Homo sapiens: one gene and its partner. The protein of the gene in region 2 purifies or fractionates together with the protein of the main gene of each other region. This does not show direct contact. Each region holds a gene or a part of one and is shown on either strand. Other genes may lie near its edges. The genes, in order: PREPL and DHRS4L2.

Evidence for each region.
Region 1: the proteins of DHRS4L2 (region 2) and PREPL purify together in Homo sapiens (affinity purification with mass spectrometry; one large-scale study listed by BioGRID and IntAct). This does not show direct contact.

The regions. Positions count from the first base shown.
Region 1 is NC_000002.12:44,326,709-44,330,531, reverse strand, and holds part of PREPL (prolyl endopeptidase-like), read left to right. Parts: intron 1-1,419; coding exon 1,420-1,595; intron 1,596-3,603; coding exon 3,604-3,820; intron 3,821-3,823. UniProt on the Homo sapiens protein: Serine peptidase whose precise substrate specificity remains unclear. Does not cleave peptides after a arginine or lysine residue. Regulates trans-Golgi network morphology and sorting by regulating the membrane binding of the AP-1 complex.
Region 2 is NC_000014.9:23,998,847-24,002,669, reverse strand, and holds part of DHRS4L2 (dehydrogenase/reductase SDR family member 4-like 2 isoform 1 precursor), read right to left. Parts: intron 1,808-3,823; coding exon 1,737-1,807; intron 1,638-1,736; coding exon 1,586-1,637; intron 1,287-1,585; coding exon 1,153-1,286; intron 1-1,152.

The DNA of each region.
Region 1 (3,823 bases), on a different chromosome or scaffold from region 2:
CCATTTGCTTGCTGCACCTCTTAGAAATAATCATTGTTACCCACTTAGTGTATTATCTTTTAGATAGGTTTTATTTGGTTTTACAAACATGGAATTAGACTAGTCTATCAAAATGTTGCAATTATTGGACCCGAGATGGAAAGAACAGTTAAGCACCATGTTCTTGGAGAGCCAAGAGGGGAGAAGGGAAGCAGCTGCTGAATGGAAGCGCTATACCTTTCCACAGGCATTTTAGTACTGCTGGCAAACCCAGATCCAGCCCATCACAGGAGTAGCTACTGTTTTACCTCTTCCTTTCAAAACTTTTCAACAAGCAACTTTTTCTGATTGTATAATTGAAGTTGGGGAAGAGTTGGGAAGTGAAAAGACCAAGAGTGTTTTATAGAAATTAATCTACATCAAGTTTTATAAAAGTGAATCTTACTAAAAGTGAAAGTTAACAATGTCATAACAACTTGGGTATTTTAAAGAAGAATGAGAGGAGAATTTCCTCCTTATTTGATTACATTTTGCTGTCTCCAGTTATTGCCCCAAAGTGAAGTTTTCAAAATGAGAATGAAAATATGAAGAGTGACTTGGATGTATTATTTATTTTCTTTATGTAAACGGTGCTATTTCATTAGTTTAAGCAGGGTGAAAACCAATTTCTTTATCTTTTTTGTGTGAAAGGTAGATCAGAATTAGTTCTTTTGTCTGTTCAGAGACTGCCTAGTTTCAATCAACTGGAACTGATGAGTTTGAGCTACATTGGGGGATGGTTACATAACCTACAAGTAACTTAGTAACCTTACAAATAATTTAACTTACTTTAACCCTACAAAGAATTTTACCGAAAAATTTTAAGACCACTTTAAATTTTTTTTAATAAAGTTAAATGGGCCTTTGAAGAGGATTGTGGTAGTTATCAGTAACATCAGTAAGATTTCAGGTCTTAATGGTTGAGAATTCCGACTACAGAGGATATAGAAAATTGAGCTGGTAAGACTTTAGTCAGCATATTTGTAGATACTCAAAAGTGAAAAATGCCAATATCTAGCTCTTAGGCATAGGAAGAGTGCTATACTAGGACTTCTAACCTTGGTAAGTATTTTGGTTTCATCTGAAAATTTAAAATTATAGTAGGTAGTGAAGAACTCTTTAAAATTACATTATTGTCATGAAAAGCTGCATTTAATAAAATGTTTTCAGGCCAGTCTTGCTGCTCTTTTCTGGTTAATACTGTAGGACAGCAAGGTAGCTGAAACCAAAAGCCATGATTTATTTTTAGAGACCATAATTCTTTTTCTTAAACAAATTTGTGCTCAACATCAGTAGGTAGCACACAAGTGGGGACAGTGCACCTCAATGTATTTTAAATTGGGATAAAACAGTTATTATAAAAGACTCTTCTTTACATACATAGTAATTCTTCATTTCTAGGATGGAAAATTAGTGCCAATGACTGTTTTCCACAAAACTGACTCTGAGGACTTGCAGAAGAAACCTCTCTTGGTACATGTATATGGAGCTTATGGAATGGATTTGAAAATGAATTTCAGGCCTGAGAGGCGGGTCCTGGTGGATGATGGATGGATATTAGCATACTGCCATGTTCGGTGAGTCAGTATATTTTACCTGGCATGTAAGTGCTAGACCATTGTGAGAGATGTCAAGAATAACAATATATATCAGGGAACAAAAGCTTATTTTTTTCATTCTTATTATTCAATTTTTGTATTCCTAAACCAGCACTGGTGAAACTTGATTCTTTAACAGATTAGTTGATCCAAAAAGCAAAAGGATAGGTTTTTAGGATTTTTGCATAGAGGTACCAGACTCTGTACTTATTTAGTAATATTATTATTTCCTTTCAGTTCTCCTGAATTCAGGTTTAAGTAGCCTCTGAATCTGAACTGTTTTCCATTTAACTTCCATTTTATTTCAGCTGTTTTCAAGACACAAATATTATTTTGTATTTCTGCTTAAAATTCTTCTCCACCTCCCCATCTCTAGAACACAGTCCAGATTCCCCAGTATAATACTCCTAATGGTCTGATGGATCTCTGTAGCGGCATTTAGCATCAGACCCTTTTTTTTTTTTTTTTTTTTTTTTTGTTTGAGACAGTTTTGCTTTGTCGCCCAGGCTGGAGTGCAGTGGCACAATCTCGGCTCACTGCAACCTCTGCCTCCCAGGTTCAAGTGATTCTCATGCTTCAGGCTCCTGAGTAGCTGGGACTACAGGCGCACACCACCACACTGTCTGAATTTTTTTTTTTTTTTTTTTGAGATAGAATCTTGCTCTGTCGCCCAGGCTGGAGTGTGCAGTGGCATGATCTTGGCCAGGGTTCAAGCGATTCTCCTGCCTCAGCCTCCTGAGTAGCTGGGATTACAGGTGCCTGCCATAACTCCTGACTAATTTTTGAAATTTTTGTAGCGATGGGGTTTCACCATGTTGGCCAGGCTGGTCTCGAACTCCTGACCTCAAGTGATCCGCCCGCCTCAGCCTCCCAAAGTGCTGGGATTACAGGCATGAGCCACCGTACCAGCCCGATTTTTTTGTATTTTAGTAGAGACAGGGTTTTCCAATGTTGCCCAGGCTGGTCTCGAACTCCTGAGCTCAAGCAGTCCGCCCGCCTCAGCCTTCCAAAATCATGTCCTTTTATTTTTTTTATTTTGTTTTGTATTTTTTTGAGATGGAGTCTCACTCTGTCTCCCAGGCTAGAGTGCAGTGGCGCAATCTCCGCTCACTGCAACCTCCGCCTCCCAGGTTCAAGTAATTCTCTTGCCTCAGCCTCCCGAGTAGTTGGGCTTATAGGCACGCACCACCACACCTGGCTAATTTTTTCTATTTTTAGGAGAGACGGGGGTTTCACCATGTTGGCCAGTCTGGTCTCAAACTCCTGACCTCAAGTGACCTGCTCACCTCAGCCTACCAAAATGCTGAGATGACAGGCTTGAGGCACTGTGTCCAGCCCCCAAAGTCATGTCTTTTAAATGACATGCTCTGTCACCTCCTTGCCCTTATACATGCTGTGTCGTATCTGTGTCTTAATGCCTTTTCTTTGCCCTCTGGAAACTCAAATTTTTCCTTCACAACTCAGTTTAGGCATCATCTCCTTAAAAGCATTTGTGTTCCTGACTCGTGTATATACCCCTCACCTGGCAGATGGATGTTCTTTCCTCTGCTCCTGTAATACCTTAAATACACTTGTATTGTAGCAATGACACCACATTGCTGGGTAAGTCGTTGTTTTCTTACCCCACAAAATTACTGTCTTCTCCACGGTAGGGGATTTTCGTTTGTTTCTACTTTTAAGGTCTGTACTTAATCCCTGATAAATGGGCAGGCACTCAAAATATATTCGTTGAATCAATTCTGGATTGTCTATATCAGGAGTTGGCAAACCTTTTTCTCTAAAGAGCTACATAGTCACATTTTAAGCTTTGCAGGCCGCGTACAGTTTCTGTTGCACATTCCTTGTTTTCACTCAACCTTTAAAAAGCAAAAACCAGTCTTAGCTCCAGGGCCACACAAAAAACAGGCCTCCAGGTGTAGTTCGCTGACCCCAGCCTACAGTATTAACTTTTTTTTTCCACTAAAACTTTTTTGCCCTTCAATTTCAGAGGTGGTGGTGAGTTAGGCCTCCAGTGGCACGCTGATGGCCGCCTAACTAAAAAACTCAATGGCCTTGCTGATTTAGAGGCTTGCATTAAGACGCTTCATGGCCAAGGCTTTTCTCAGCCAAGTCTAACAACCCTGACTGCTTTCAGTGCTGGAGGGGTGCTTGCAGGAGCATTGTGTAATTCTAATCCAGAGCTGGTGAGAGCGGTGACTTTGGAGGTG
Region 2 (3,823 bases):
GCGATCATTAAAAAGTCAGGAAACAACAGGTGCTGGAGAGGATGTGGAGAAATAGGAACACTTTTACACTGTTGGTGGGACTGTAAACTAGTTCAACCATTGTGGAAGTCAGTGTGGCGATTCCTCAGGGATCTAGAACTAGAAATACCATTTGACCCAGCCATCCCATTACTGGGTATATACCCAAATGACTATAAATCATGCTGCTATAAAGACACATGCACACGTATGTTTATTGCGGCATTATTCACAATAGCAAAGACTTGGAACCAACCCAAATGTCCAACAATGATAGACTGGATTAAGAAAATGTGGCACATATACACCATGGAATACTATGCAGCCATAAAAAATGATGAGTTCATGTCCTTTGTAGGGACATGGATGAAATTGGAAACCATCATTCTCAGTAAACTATCGCAAGAACAAAAAACCAAACACCACATATTCTCACTCATAGGTGGGAATTGAACAATGAGATCACATGGACACAGGAAGGGGAATATCACACTCTGGGGACTGTGGTGGGGTCGGGGGAGTGGGGAGGGATAGCATTGGGAGATATATCTAATGCTAGATGACACGTTAGTGGGTGCAGCGCACCAGCATGGCACATGTATACATATGTAACTAACCTGCACAATGTGCACATGTACCCTAAAACTTAAAGTATAATAATAATAATAATTAAAAAAGAAAAAAAAAAAAAAAAGAAGAGGAAAGTGAAGAATGGAAAGGGAAGAAACTGCCCATCCTCATGGTAACTGAGAGGAGGGATGGGGTGAGAGACTTCCCTCTTTCACTTCCTATTTTTTTCTAGCTCCCAGCTCTCCCCACTGCCCTCATCTGTTTCATTTGTTTCAGGTTCTAGTGATGCATTTTGCTGCGTCTCTCCAATTCTCATCCATGTAAGGAGGGAGGAAACAGTGTGAGTACAGTCTGAATACCTCAGTCTCCAGCCTATACCTCAGAAAAGGTGTGATAAGAGTGTGGCTTGTATAGGGCAGGTGGTACAGAGAGGGAATATGGGAAAGTCCAGGGAAGGAGAATGGAGTGGCTGAGAGCTCAGGACTCAGGTAGTGGGCTTCCCTGTCCAAGAAGATGGATGCCTTTCAAGGGGTCCCAGTCAAATGCAAAGCTCCCCTTCCTCACCATCCTGCTGAAGCTAGTCTTGATAAGTCCAGGTGCAGGCAGTTCACCCTAATGTTCCTTGGGGCCAGCTCTATGGCCAGGGTATTGTTGAGGCCCAGCAAGGCTGTTTTACTGACATTGTAAGGACTGAAGCCCTGGAGAAAGAAGAGAATGTGTTAGACTCATAGTTTCCAGGTCATTCTTGGTTCTAATAACTAGACATAGAGGGCAGTGCTCAGTAGGGATCTCCTGTAAGGGAGGGGCAGAGTTAGGAAACTGTCTTGTGGCTAAACCTCCCCTAGGTTATGGTTTGTGGAGGCAAGGCATCTATTTTGTGGGCAGGGACTTGGTGGTGTGATTCTACAAGGGGACACAAACTTCTTTGGGTAATAGGAGGGGTGGAAAGATGTGGAGTGGAGGGTGGGATGGAAGAGGTAGACAAAAGGGTTCTTACAGGAGATGGACTGAAGGCTGCTATGGAAGACACGATCACCACTGAGCCGCCTCTGGAAAAAGAAGAGAGCTGACCGTCTTCCCAGTGTGGACCACTGCCCTCAGCCTGTGTGGGGTCCCCTCTCACCCAGGCTCTCTCTCACTCTCTGTACCCTCGTTTCTCCATTTCTGGCACCACTGCCTTTGTCATCAGGGCTGGGGCCTTCACATTAATGTCCAGAGTCTGAAGCCAAGAGAAGAAGGGGAAACAGCATGAGTGAAGAGCACTGGAGGAGGCATGAAAAAATGAGGAGTTAGAGTGGGTTCCTAGGATGTTTGTCAGAGCTGACGAAGATCTTAGGATGATATACCTGCATCTTACACATGAAGGAACTGAGGTTCAGGGAGAAGTAGCTCTCACCAGCTGCTCAGCTAGATAATGATACATTAGGTTCAGGTGAGCAAAAATGGAGCCTGGTTCATCTTGTTTCATAATCAGCCAAGTATGATTTGGGCCAGAAGGGGCCTTTGGATTTGAGCTGTGTTTTCTCTGTTTCTTCCAAGTAGGTAGAGCCTGGAATTGTCAGCCTCCTGGACCTGCCCTAGAGTAGGCCATGCTTCTCAGGGAAAATGTGGCCTGACCTTGGATATGTGGGGTTGTTCTAGCACTTCTCTGGCTTCTGGGCTTAGGGAGTGAGATGTTCTTGGCCCTCTAGGAAGGACTGTCTGGCTAGGCATGGTTAGAAAGTGGGATCATGAGGAGTCACCTTCTGGGGAAGCTGGGGGACAGGCTACAATCAGAATCCCCACATCCATAATCTAAAACAAATGTATGACCCTGTTTACACTGTTCTAGACAACTGCTTATATTAAAATATTTCAATCTTACAGAAAAATTGGAGATAGAAGTACAATGAATGTCTAGATATCCTTCACTTAGAGTCACCAATTGTTCACATTTTGTCCTATTTGTCCTCTCTGTAGATCTGTACAGTTTTTTAAATGAACCATTGAAACTCAGTTGCAAGTTTTCTGAAAGATTTTATATAATAAAATCAAAAATTACAAAGAACAAAAATAAAAAAATGTAAATTAAAAAAAAAAAAACTCAGGGCTGGGCATGGTGGCTCATGCCTGCAATCCCTGCACTTCGGGAGGCCAAGATGGGTGGATCACTTTTAGGTCAGGAGTTCGAGAACAGCCTGGGCAACATGGCAAACCTCGTCTGTACTAAAAATACAAAAATTAGCCAGACGTGGTGGCATGTGTTTGTAATCCAAGCTACTCAGGAGGATGAGACAGCAGAATAGCTTGAACCCGGGAGGTGGAGGTTGCAGTGAGCTGAGATAGCACCACTGCACTCCAGCCTGGGTAACAGAGTGAGGCTCCATCACAAAAATAAATAAATAACCTAAAATAAAATAAGTAAACTCAGTTGCAGATAGTACAATGTTCTATCCCCAAATACTTAGCATACATTTCCAAAGAGTAAGGATTTTCTTTTACACAACCATAATCTGTTATCACAACCAAGAGTTTGACAATGATGATAATTTTATCTAACATATTGGCCTCAATTATCCCCCAAATGTGTGTGTGTGTTTTTTAAAGTCCAGAGTTCAATCAAGGATCAGCCATTATGTTTGGATTTGACATACTGTGATAGTTTAAAAAATATACAAATTAAAAGAAAAGTTATAGACACATATTTTCTTATGCTTTGCAGATATTGTTTTTTTTTTTTTTTTTTTTTTTTTTTTTTACAAATTGGAGTTTCGTGGCAACCCTGCATTAATTCGAGCCATTTTTCCAATTGCATGTGCTCACTTTGTCTCTGGGTCACATTTTGGTAATTCTTGGAATATTTCAGACCTTTCCATTATTATTATATCTGTTACGGTGATCTGTGATGAGTGATCTTTCATGGTTTTATTATAATTGTTTTGGGGTACCACAAACCACACCCAGAAAAGAAGGTCAACTTAATTGAAAAATGTTGTGTGTTCTGACTGCTCTGCCCTTCTCTCATCTCTCTCCCTCTCTGTGGACCTCCATATTCCCTGAGACACATTTACATTGAAATTAGGCCAACTATTAACCCTACAATGGCTTGTAAGTGTTTAAGCAAAAGGAAGAGTCACACATCTTTCACTTTAAATCAAAAGCTAGAAACAATTAAGCTTAGTGAGGAAGGCATGTTGAAAGCTGAGGCAGGCTGAAAGTTAGACCATGTGCACCAGTTAGCCAAATTGTGAATGCA